Linked DNA regions of Homo sapiens. The protein of the gene in region 1 interacts with the protein of each later gene in a pairwise test. Each region holds a gene or a part of one and is shown on either strand. Other genes may lie near its edges. The genes, in order: APMAP, LOXL3 and RASA4.

Region 1 (3,648 bases):
AAAAATGAATTTTGTCCCTAACTTCCTCCCCTTCACTCATAAGGGGTTCAGAGCTCACCCCGTACACCTGAGGCCAGGTAAAATGCCACATTGCCAGTCCTTACCCCTTTTATTAGGTGGGAAAGGAGGTGGTCCAGACCCTACAAACACAAACAAAATGCCACAGACACACCAGGGAGAGGCCAAGGGAGCCCAGCTCCTGGAAGAGGGCAGGTGAGAATGAAGGGGAAAGTCAGGTCAACCTCTCCCTCCCAGTCCTGTCTCCAAACCCCAGGACCAAATAATCTTCTTCTAATGTGACTGACTTATACCAGTCATGGGTATAAGCACCACAGGCATAAAAATGTCTACAAAGCACAGAACTACGACCTGACATGACGGCAGGCTCATGCAACCTGAGAGGTCTGCAGCAGGGAAAGGAGTAAGGGCCAGGAAAAGAGGAATGGCAAACAGTCCAAATGAGAGTATGCCAAGAAATGTGCTTTACGTGGGCAACCAGATGGAACCAGGTATCTCTCTCCTTCACAAATGAGGGAAGTGGGCAGGGAAAGGCTCAAGTGGCTTTCCCACAGCCAATGCAAGAGCTGGAAAAGCGCAACTGAGAGCCAGATGTGACTCTATGGCTGCGGTCACCATTAGAAGCGCTGCCTGCCAAGAGCAAGAGGAGGGAGTGGAGGATGCCCAGACCTAGAGCCCTCAGAGCGGGAGTTTGAAAGCTCTGTGAAAATTCATGGTGATCTGCCTATTCTAGGCATTTCATATAAGTGGAATCATACAACAAGTGACCTTTCATGACTAGCTTCTTTCATTCAGTGTGTTTTCTAGGCCCATCTAAGTTGCAGTATGTATCTGTACATGGTTCCTTTTACCAGTTGATTATGTATGTATCTACCACAACTTGCTGCCCACTCATCTGGTTTTTTGTTTTTTAAATATAAAGACACGGTCTCAGTATGTCAACCAGGCTGGAGTACAGTGGCATGATCATATCTCACTGTTATCTCAAATTCCTGGGCTCAAGTGATCCTCCTGTCTCAGCCTCCCAAAGTAGCTAGGACTACAGGTGTGCACCACCACACGTGGCTAATTGTTTTACTTTCTGTAGAGAAAACATCTTGCTACATTGTCCAGGCTGGTCTTGAACTTCTGGCCTCAAGCAGTCTTCCCACCTTAGCCTTCCAAAGTGCACCCTGAGATGAGCAGGCATGAGCAACCATGTCTAGCCCCACTCATCTGCTGAACATTTGTGTGGGAGGGGGAAATGGGAGTGATTACTTAATCAGTACAAGGTAAACACCTTGCTTTTATGGGGTGATGAAACAGTTTTGAAAGCAGAGAGAGTTGGTGGTTGCCCAACATTGTGAATACACTAAATATCACTGAACTGTGCACTTTAAAGTGGTTAATTGTATGTTATGCGAATTTCACCTCAACTAAAAAAAAAAGTTGACAGTGACAAGAATGTTCTAAACTTGGATTGCGGTAATTACTGCAAAACTGGCCATTATACTAAAAATCACTGATTTGAACATTTTAAGTAGGTTAATTTTATGGTATGTGAATTACATCTCAATAAAGATGTTAAAAAAAAACAAAAACAAAACAAAGTCAGTGACTCCACCATGCAAACTGCCACTCCAATGGCTAGGACACCCTTCAACCCAAGTGATTTTCTTTAAGTGACCTAAAGTCTTCCAACACAATAGAAATGAAGTACTTGTACAATAAAGCAGGGCTGGTTACAAGTAAATGACAGAAACGCTTCTGACAGTGTGAACCCCAAAGAGAGACAAAGCATATGGAAAGGTGGATGGTGAAGATGTGTGGCTGCCAGCCCTGAGAGCTGCCCTCACTGCACTCTGGTACTGAGTCCAACAGGGACTGCCTGCCTTAAAGGAAGCTGATGCCATCACCCACCCCACTCCCAGGAGAGAAGAGTCCCTCTAGGGAAGGTACATTGTGTTTTCACCTCATGACCTTCATTATAAACAGTAACAATCTTGCCAAAACGCTACTTTTTCCTTGCCTAACATCATTCTACCTAAGGCAGATTTTCCTCATCTGTCTTGACTCCAACATTGTGACCTCTACTTTACCACACTGCAGCTTATATTTTTAAAATCTTGATGTGGTAATCTGATTCAGAGCTGGTGGCACCCCATTTAAATACCTGGTTGCCCCTTCACACAATAGTTAGAGGCTCAATTATGTCCCAAACAAAAAGTCCAGCCAGGACTGAAAGCCACGGGGCTTACAGCCAGAAAGGAGGCCAAAAGTCCATTGACAAAGATTTGTGTCCCAATGCTGCGGGATCTACCATACCAGTAACACTCTCCTAAAGCTGGAGAAGAATTTAGAGGCCACTCAGTCTACTGTTCCCAAAGGCAGCCAACTCCTGGATGGGCTACATCAAGATGACCTGGGCCAGAGATTCTGCTTTGGTAGGTACAGGGTGGGCCTGCGAACTCTTTCATCGGTTGTTCCTCATGTGCAGCTGGACACCACTAACTCTATGCAGCTCCCTTCCCAGTCAGACTTCACCAACACCTCCTCAACCTCACCTGATCAGCATCCAGCCTCCACTGGAAAGTTCTGTGGTCACGTATTAGAAATACTAGCTTAAATTTAAACAAAACTCCTTGAGCTGCACTGTCCAATAGAACTTTCTGCAACGATGGAAATACAATAGCTACTAGCCATGTGTGGTTCCTGAGCACTTGAAATGGAGTTAGCTTGTTATATAAATGAGGTAAGCACAGCTCCTGGACCCCTGCTCTGGGTGCCACACTTATTTTAGCCCAAGGTCCATTAACTTTTCGGCAGGCCCTCATCAGTGTTGCTTCCTGTAAACTCACAGTTAACCACAATTCTTCTGTCTTTTCTCGGTGTCTGCCTCCCTCTTACTCTTTTTTTAACTTAAATAAAGAACACTGTATCGATCCCTATCCATTTTCACTGACAAAGCATTGCAGGTTCCCAACCTGTGCTGACACATCCAGGAACGCTGGCAACTTAGTTCCCAGGCGCAGTTTGAGAAATCAGTTTGTTTGCCCCAATCTCTCGGAAGAGCCTGGAGGGATGCCCATCTCCATGAGGACATCTGCACCCTGAAATTGCCTACACTCTCTGAAGGCAAGAGCACAACCACAGTGATGCAACAGGATTTGACAACTGCTGTTGGCTGGGCCATGATTTACACAATCTTCTGTAGATTCACCAGCCAATTTGGCAGATTTTGAAGGGTATCCTCTAACTCTGCACACAGGACATTAGGGCCTTGGGTCCTGAACTGAAGTCCCAACAAGCAGACTCCAAGAGATCAAAATTCACCTGTGATTGTTGTGGAAAACCTGATAGCCCCAAATCCATGGGGTACCAGCAACCTCATGTGTCAAGGTGATCCCTGGAACCTGAGAAAATCAGATAGCATCAACCCATCTTTTTTAGTGACAGCATCTTGAATTTGTTCATTTTTCACAATCCTTTAAACTGGGGCTCCTAGATTCATCAATTTATCCTTGAAAAAAATTAAGAAATCAAGAAACAAGTTTAAAAAGCCATCTGAAAATACACACCTGGGGCAAAGCTGAGACAAACACTCCAGCTGCCTTACTCCTCATGAATTCGTGAATGCCCAATCTGTTTCTC
Region 2 (2,740 bases), on another chromosome or scaffold:
GAGATAAATGGTCACAAAAGGGTGGGGGGCATGGTGGAGGCATGAAGTGGGAGGATGTTTGTGGGGCCAAGAGGCAGGAGCATTGTTTTACCCTACTGCACCTCACTCCTGTCCCCCTAGGCTGCTAGCCCAACGGCAGCAACACTCCTTTGGTCTGCATGGGGTGGCGTGCGTGGGCACGGAGGCCCACCTCTCCCTCTGTTCCCTGGAGTTCTATCGTGCCAATGACACCGCCAGGTGCCCTGGGGGGGGCCCTGCAGTGGTGAGCTGTGTGCCAGGCCCTGTCTACGCGGCATCCAGTGGCCAGAAGAAGCAACAACAGTCGAAGCCTCAGGGGGAGGTGTGTGAGACAGTGATTATGACCTTTCCCACCCCAGGTGGAGAACCCCTAGCCTGGCAACCCCAGACTAAGCACAGCCCTGACCTTTGAGGACAGAGAGGAGCCTTCCAGGGGGTGGGCCACAGACCTGATACCACCCACTCCCTTCCACCAAAGTCTCACTCATCTCCCAGGTCTGCTTAGCCCTCCGTGCAGATGTTGCCATTTGCCTCTGTTGGGCACTTCTCTCTTCTATAGGCCCGTGTCCGTCTAAAGGGCGGCGCCCACCCTGGAGAGGGCCGGGTAGAAGTCCTGAAGGCCAGCACATGGGGCACAGTCTGTGACCGCAAGTGGGACCTGCATGCAGCCAGCGTGGTGTGTCGGGAGCTGGGCTTCGGGAGTGCTCGAGAAGCTCTGAGTGGCGCTCGCATGGGGCAGGGTGAGGTGGCATGGAGGTGGGAGGGAGAGGGAAGGAGGTACATGCTCCTGGGGGGCATATTCCTTCGGAAGGTTAGGTGTCCCCTGGGCAGACAATATATGCTTAATTACAACTTCCTGATCTTTGCCATCTGGCCCTAGGCATGGGTGCTATCCACCTGAGTGAAGTTCGCTGCTCTGGACAGGAGCTCTCCCTCTGGAAGTGCCCCCACAAGAACATCACAGCTGAGGATTGTTCACATAGCCAGGATGCCGGGGTCCGGTGCAACCTACCTTACACTGGGGCAGAGACCAGGGTCAGTCATCCTCTCTACCTTGGTTGAGGTCTCTTTCATCCTATCCAGGTCTGGTCTCCAATCTACAGTCCAATGGCCCCCAGCCCATTGCCCCAGGCCCCTGCCCTCCTGCAGCTCCCACCTGACCCATCACTTGCTAGCCCATTATGTGCCTGAGTCACGCTTCAGCCACATCTGTTAGAGACTCCCACTACCTCACCCCAAAGCTTTCTCCAGCGCTTCCATTCTGTGTCACTACAGATCCGACTCAGTGGGGGCCGCAGCCAACATGAGGGGCGAGTCGAGGTGCAAATAGGGGGACCTGGGCCCCTTCGCTGGGGCCTCATCTGTGGGGATGACTGGGGGACCCTGGAGGCCATGGTGGCCTGTAGGCAACTGGGTCTGGGCTACGCCAACCACGGCCTGCAGGTGAGTGGGAAGGAAAGGGGAGCCGAGGCTGTTGTCTCAAAGCCTGTGTTTTGGGCAGAGGGCTGAGGAATGAGTCCCTTGGCCCAAGATGCTGGATCCTGGGCCTTACAGAAACATCTGCATATGTCCCCAGGAGACCTGGTACTGGGACTCTGGGAATATAACAGAGGTGGTGATGAGTGGAGTGCGCTGCACAGGGACTGAGCTGTCCCTGGATCAGTGTGCCCATCATGGCACCCACATCACCTGCAAGAGGACAGGGACCCGCTTCACTGCTGGAGTCATCTGTTCTGAGAGTGAGTGAAGGAGGGGGTGATGCATGCCAGGGAAGGGAGTGTCTGGGCCACCCGTTTGCAGGGAAAGGGGGCTGTAATCTGGAGGGGCACTTCTTCCCCATAAAAGAGCCAGTTTCGCCGGGTGCAGTGGCTCACGCCTGTAATCCCAGCACTTTAGGAGGCCAAGGCGGATGGATCACGAGGTCAGGAATTCAAGACCAGCCTGACCAAGATGGTGAAACCCTGTCTCTACTAAAACTACAAAAATTAGCCAGGCGCAGTGGCAGGCGCCTATAATCCCAGCTACTCGGGAGGCTGAGGCAGGAGAATCACTTGAACCCAGGTGGCAGAGGTTGCAGTGAGCCAAGATCACGCCGCTGCATTCCAGCCTCGGCAACAGAGTGAGACTCCATCTCAAACAAACAAACAAACAAAAACAAAAACAAAAAACTAGTCTTACACACTAGGGAGGGATGGAAGCACCCCTCTCTGTGAAGTCAGCAGTGACTTCTAACACCCCCTTCCTTTCTTGGTGCAGCTGCATCAGATCTGTTGCTGCACTCAGCACTGGTGCAGGAGACCGCCTACATCGAAGACCGGCCCCTGCATATGTTGTACTGTGCTGCGGAAGAGAACTGCCTGGCCAGCTCAGCCCGCTCAGCCAACTGGCCCTATGGTCACCGGCGTCTGCTCCGATTCTCCTCCCAGATCCACAACCTGGGACGAGCTGACTTCAGGCCCAAGGCTGGGCGCCACTCCTGGGTGTGGCACGAGTGCCATGGGTGAGAGGGTAGGGAGTCAAGTAGAAGGGCAAGACCACGGGGGATGGGGCAAACCTTCTGGGGGCAGAGAAGGAAACAGAAGTTCCCTTCTCCCCACAGGCATTACCACAGCATGGACATCTTCACTCACTATGATATCCTCACCCCAAATGGCACCAAGGTGGCTGAGGGCCACAAAGCTAGTTTCTGTCTCGAAGACACTGAGTGTCAGGAGGGTGAGTT
Region 3 (4,419 bases), on another chromosome or scaffold:
CCAGCCTCAAACACTTTTTCTTTCAACGACATTGACCTATAGTGAATATCAAAAGCATGCACTGAAACTCAAGAGCTGCCTCCTCTCCTGTGCCAGGATGCACTGTAACTTTTGTGAGCCCTAGGCATGTTTGACTTATATGGGTTAAGATATTCAAATACGGCTAGGCACGGTGGCTCACGCCTGTAATCCTAACACTCTGGGAGACCGAAGTGGGCAGCTCACCTGAGGTCAGGTGTTTGAGGCCAGCCTGGCCAACCTGGTGAAACTCCATCTCTACTAAAAATATAGAAATTACCCAGGCGTGGTGGCAGGTCCCTGAAGCTCTGGCTACTCGGGAGGCTGAGGCAGGAGAATGCCTTGAGTCAGGGAGGCAGAGGTTGCAGTGAGCTGAGATTGCGCTACTGCACTCCAGCCTGGGTGATAGAGCGAGACTCCACCCCAAAAAAAAGAAAAAAAAAAAGATATTCAAATGTGTATTTTACAACTGCTTTGGCATAAAGACTGACTGATACCAGTCAGGTCAGATTCATTATTACATATTCATTACTATTATACTCCTGTTTGACTAGGCATGGTGGGCTCACATCTGTGGTCCCAGCCCTTTGGGAGGCCAAGGCAGGAGGATAACTTGAGGCCAGGAGTTCTAGACCAGCCTGGGCAACATAATGAGACCCCCCCATTTCTACTAAAAATAAAAAAAATTAGCCAGTCGTGGTGGTATGCATCTGTAGTCCCAGCTACATGGGAGGCTGAGGTGGTAGGATTGCTTGAACCCAGGAGATTGAGGCTGCAGTGAGCTATGATTGCACCACTGCACTTCAGCCAACAGAGCAAGCCCCTGTTTCAAATGCATGCATACATACATACATACATACATACATACATACATACATACACACACAAACCAACCAATACAAAAAATACATATTTTTTTTCTTCTGATTCTAAAAAACATAAAAACAGCCAGGCACGATGGCTCATGCCTGTATTCCCAGCACTTTGGGAGGCCGAGGTGGGCAGATTACCTGAGGTCAGGAGTTCAAGACCAGCCTGGCCAACATGGTGAAACCCCGTATCTACCGAAAATACAAAAATTAGCTGGGCGTGGTGGCGCGTGTCTGCAATCCCAGCTACTTGGGAGGCTGAGACAGAAGAATTGCTTGAAACCGGGAGGTGGAGGTTGCAGTGTCCCCCACCCGCTCCTCCAGGGGCGCCCCCCTCGAGCCACCGCGCCGGCTGCCCGGCGAGTGTCAGCGCCTCCTCACAGGCCCCGCCCCTCACGCCCCAGACGGCCAATGAGAGCTGCGGCCCCGGCCGGCCCCTCCCCGCCCTGGGGAACCCCGGTCGCGGATTGGCCGGCCCGGGCGCAGTGTCCCCCGCACGTGGGGCGGGGGCGGGGTGAGTGGAGTGGCAGCGAAGCCCCGCCCCCGCCGCCCCGCCCCCGCCCCCGCCTCCTCCCCGGCCCGCCCCACCTGCGGCGCCCAGTCCAGCGCCCGCCGCCCGCCACCCCGGACCCCGGTGTCTGGCTTCCCCCGAGCCGGGACCCCGCGATGGCCAAGCGCAGCTCGCTGTACATCCGCATCGTGGAGGGGAAGAACCTTCCCGCCAAGGACATGTGAGCGCGGCCGGGGGTGGGAGCCCCAACTTTCCGGGGAGGGGCACTGCCCCCCAGGACGCCTGACCTTTCCGGGGTCCACCCACAAGAGCAGCGGAGAGGGTGCGGGAGTGCGGCCGTGGTGGGGGATCGGCGGGGAAAATGGGGACAGTGACATTTTCTGCGAGCACCAGACGGGGTGACAACCGGGGGGCGGGGAAGTGTCACCGAGGGCTGGGGGCTGGGAACTAGGGAGGGGGCGAGAATTTGTCAGCGATCCGCGGCTCACGAGGGGAAGGGGCTTTGATACGACAGGAGCTGGAGCCTGGTGACATGCCAGGGGAGACGTCTTGGTGATCTGCCCCCGGGGTGGGGTTGGAGGGGGTGGGGTGTCCCCCGCAAAGGAAGGGTCTTCCTCAGTAGTTCCAGAGCCCTTAATGCCCCGGAGTGTGCACCTGAAGCACATGCTGGGGCCCAGGGGCTGTCCCCGGGCTTCCTGCTGTGCACTCGGGTAGGAGGGACTGGCATGAAAAGTGAGAACAGGTCAGGAGGCCAGGACAGGTGCAGGACTGTGGGGGAGGGAAGGAGGGTAGTAACTGTCGCTTGTGCCTTGGGCTTTACACCTGAGCCATCCCGTTAATCCTCTCAACCACCCCGAAAGGCAGTTCTCACCGTTCCATTTTACAGATGAGAAAACTGAGGTTCAGAGAAGTGAAATGCTGGCTCCAAGTGGCAGGCAGAGCAGGGTCTTGAGTCTAGGGCTTCTCACAGGCACTGACATCTGGGGATTCCCCTGGTCCCTGGCTCGATTTGGGGAGGTTTCAGGGGCCCCTTGTTCCACTCTTCTCAGTAGGTCCCAGGGCTGAGCTGCCTGACCCCTGGCCCACCATCTTGGTCTTGCCACCACCTTCCTCATGTACAGGGTTTAGGCAGCTCCCTGCTCCTAGAGCCTCAGTTTCCCCTCTTTAAACTAGGGGTTGAAATCCCTCTAGAGGAAGAGGGGGAAAGCTCAAAGGTCAAGGGGCACTGGCTGCCTGGAGGAGGAGGGTGGGAGGGGGAAAAGTGGAGCCTGGAGGAAACAGAGTCCAAAGTCTGCGGAGCTGCAGTTCCCCACCCCTTGGGCGCCCCGGGCTCCTGGATGCAGAGAAGTGGCTAGCATGGGCGAGGGGGTGGAGCAGGGTGGGGGGCAGGCACTCTGCTCACACATATGTGTGGTGGCCCCTGTGAGCTTCCCAGCAAGCTCAGCGCGCCACCACCGAGAGCAGTGCCAGTTCCAGGCCCCCTGGGTCTGATGAGGCCCAGCTCAGCAGTTACCATGACAATGGGGAAGGGAGGGCGGTGGGCATCCCTAGGTGGGTTTCTGTGCTTGGAGGCTTGGAGGGAGGTGGAGTGGGAGCTGGCAGTGAGGTCTGTGGGCTGGGAAGGCAGAGGAGCTCTGAGAAGGGTCTCAGCCTCCAGGCCCAGCCTTTAAGCATCCCCCACCCCCTGCCACCACTGGCACTAGGAACTAGGTCATCTTGGCCTCTTCTGGCTGGTGGCAGCTGGGAGGAGCAGCCCCTCCGTCTGTCGCCTCCCTCCTCATCCCCACAGCAGCTGGCCCTAGTGCCTGGCTCCAGGCTCTCTCCAGCCCAGGGCAGCCAAGCTCTTGGAGTATGCCCACCTGGGAGCCCAGTGCCTGGTTCCCTGCTCAGTGCTTTGCCTCTGGGCAAAGGGGTTCCATCTACAGTGGAGGGGTGCCTTGGGATCTCGATCCTCACCCTGCCCCCCTGCCTGCCCTACTCACGTCTCCTTTGCAACCCCCCATCTTCCCCTGTGGCTTGCATACACAGCTCTGACCTGTCAGCCGCCTCTTAAACCATCCCATAAACAGTCCCTCACATTTGGGCTACTACCCTTCACATCTCTGCTTTCGCCCATGTGTGGGGACTTCTGCCTTCAAGCACTCCACTTCAGTCCTCCAGAAAACTCCTATTCAATGTTCAGGACTCCTCTCAAACTTCTCCTCTCCAGGGCATTCCCTGGTGCACTTGGGCAGAGTTCCTGGCTCCTGGGCTCGCCCCCCAGCACTCTGGGTGGCAGGAGGAAGCCCCTGGTGTGGCAGTTCCTCCGTCAAGTGGTGCCTGTCCCAGCTGACTGTGAGGGCAGGGACTGTGACTCATTCATCCTGGCACCGGGTCCATAGTAGGGAGAATAAGAGGTGTTGAGGACTTCCCCCACTTAATCCTCTTCTTAGCTTTATAAGATAGACATCCTCGGTTTGCACATTGGGAAACTGAGGCTCAGGAAGTGAAAGCCATTTGCCAAGAGGGTAGGTAGAGAAGTCAGGATTCAGATTGCCTTTGCTGCCGACAGGCTGAGAATTCTAGCCTGCCCGCGGCTGTAAGCTTGCGGCTGGGCTCAGTGAGACTGAGCCTCGGAAATCCTATGCAAAGCATTTGGCTGCAGAGTCGGGCAGGGGTTTGGAGATCATGGGAGGCCCTCACTGAGTACTGGAGTTTCACTGTGCCTCACCAGCACCCCGCCTATCTTCTGAGTAGCATCTCCTCCAGCCAGGGCTTGCATACTTCTGAGGACGGGGAGCTTACCACCTCTCATAGTGGCTCATCTTGACTGAGACAGTTCCAAGGAGGAAGCTGTCCTCACACAGCTGCCAGCTGCCTTCCTGCCACTTCTACTCATGGGTTTTTATTCCTCTAAAGGGCACAGAGCGCAGCTGCATTCCCCATCACTGCTAGCTTTCAGAGCCTGCCTGTTCCTGCCCTGCCTCTTCCCACTGTCTCTCGTCCCCACGTACCTAGGCATGAGCCAAGTCTCACGATGAC

What was found.
Region 2: the proteins of APMAP (region 1) and LOXL3 interact in a two-hybrid assay, tested with the Homo sapiens proteins (one large-scale study listed by IntAct).
Region 3: the proteins of APMAP (region 1) and RASA4 interact in a two-hybrid assay, tested with the Homo sapiens proteins (one large-scale study listed by IntAct).

The regions. Positions count from the first base shown.
Region 1 is NC_000020.11:24,986,204-24,989,851, forward strand, and holds part of APMAP (adipocyte plasma membrane-associated protein), read right to left. Parts: intron 1-3,648. UniProt on the Homo sapiens protein: Exhibits strong arylesterase activity with beta-naphthyl acetate and phenyl acetate. May play a role in adipocyte differentiation.
Region 2 is NC_000002.12:74,534,309-74,537,048, reverse strand, and holds part of LOXL3 (lysyl oxidase homolog 3 isoform 1 precursor), read left to right. Parts: intron 1-120; coding exon 121-340; intron 341-577; coding exon 578-758; intron 759-898; coding exon 899-1,053; intron 1,054-1,293; coding exon 1,294-1,461; intron 1,462-1,594; coding exon 1,595-1,757; intron 1,758-2,274; coding exon 2,275-2,518; intron 2,519-2,617; coding exon 2,618-2,733; intron 2,734-2,740. UniProt on the Homo sapiens protein: Protein-lysine 6-oxidase that mediates the oxidation of peptidyl lysine residues to allysine in target proteins.
Region 3 is NC_000007.14:102,613,824-102,618,242, reverse strand, and holds the start of RASA4 (ras GTPase-activating protein 4), read left to right. Parts: upstream 1-1,486; 5' UTR 1,487-1,553; coding exon 1,554-1,618; intron 1,619-1,697; exon of another isoform or gene 1,698-1,720; intron 1,721-4,419. UniProt on the Homo sapiens protein: Ca(2+)-dependent Ras GTPase-activating protein, that switches off the Ras-MAPK pathway following a stimulus that elevates intracellular calcium. Functions as an adaptor for Cdc42 and Rac1 during FcR-mediated phagocytosis.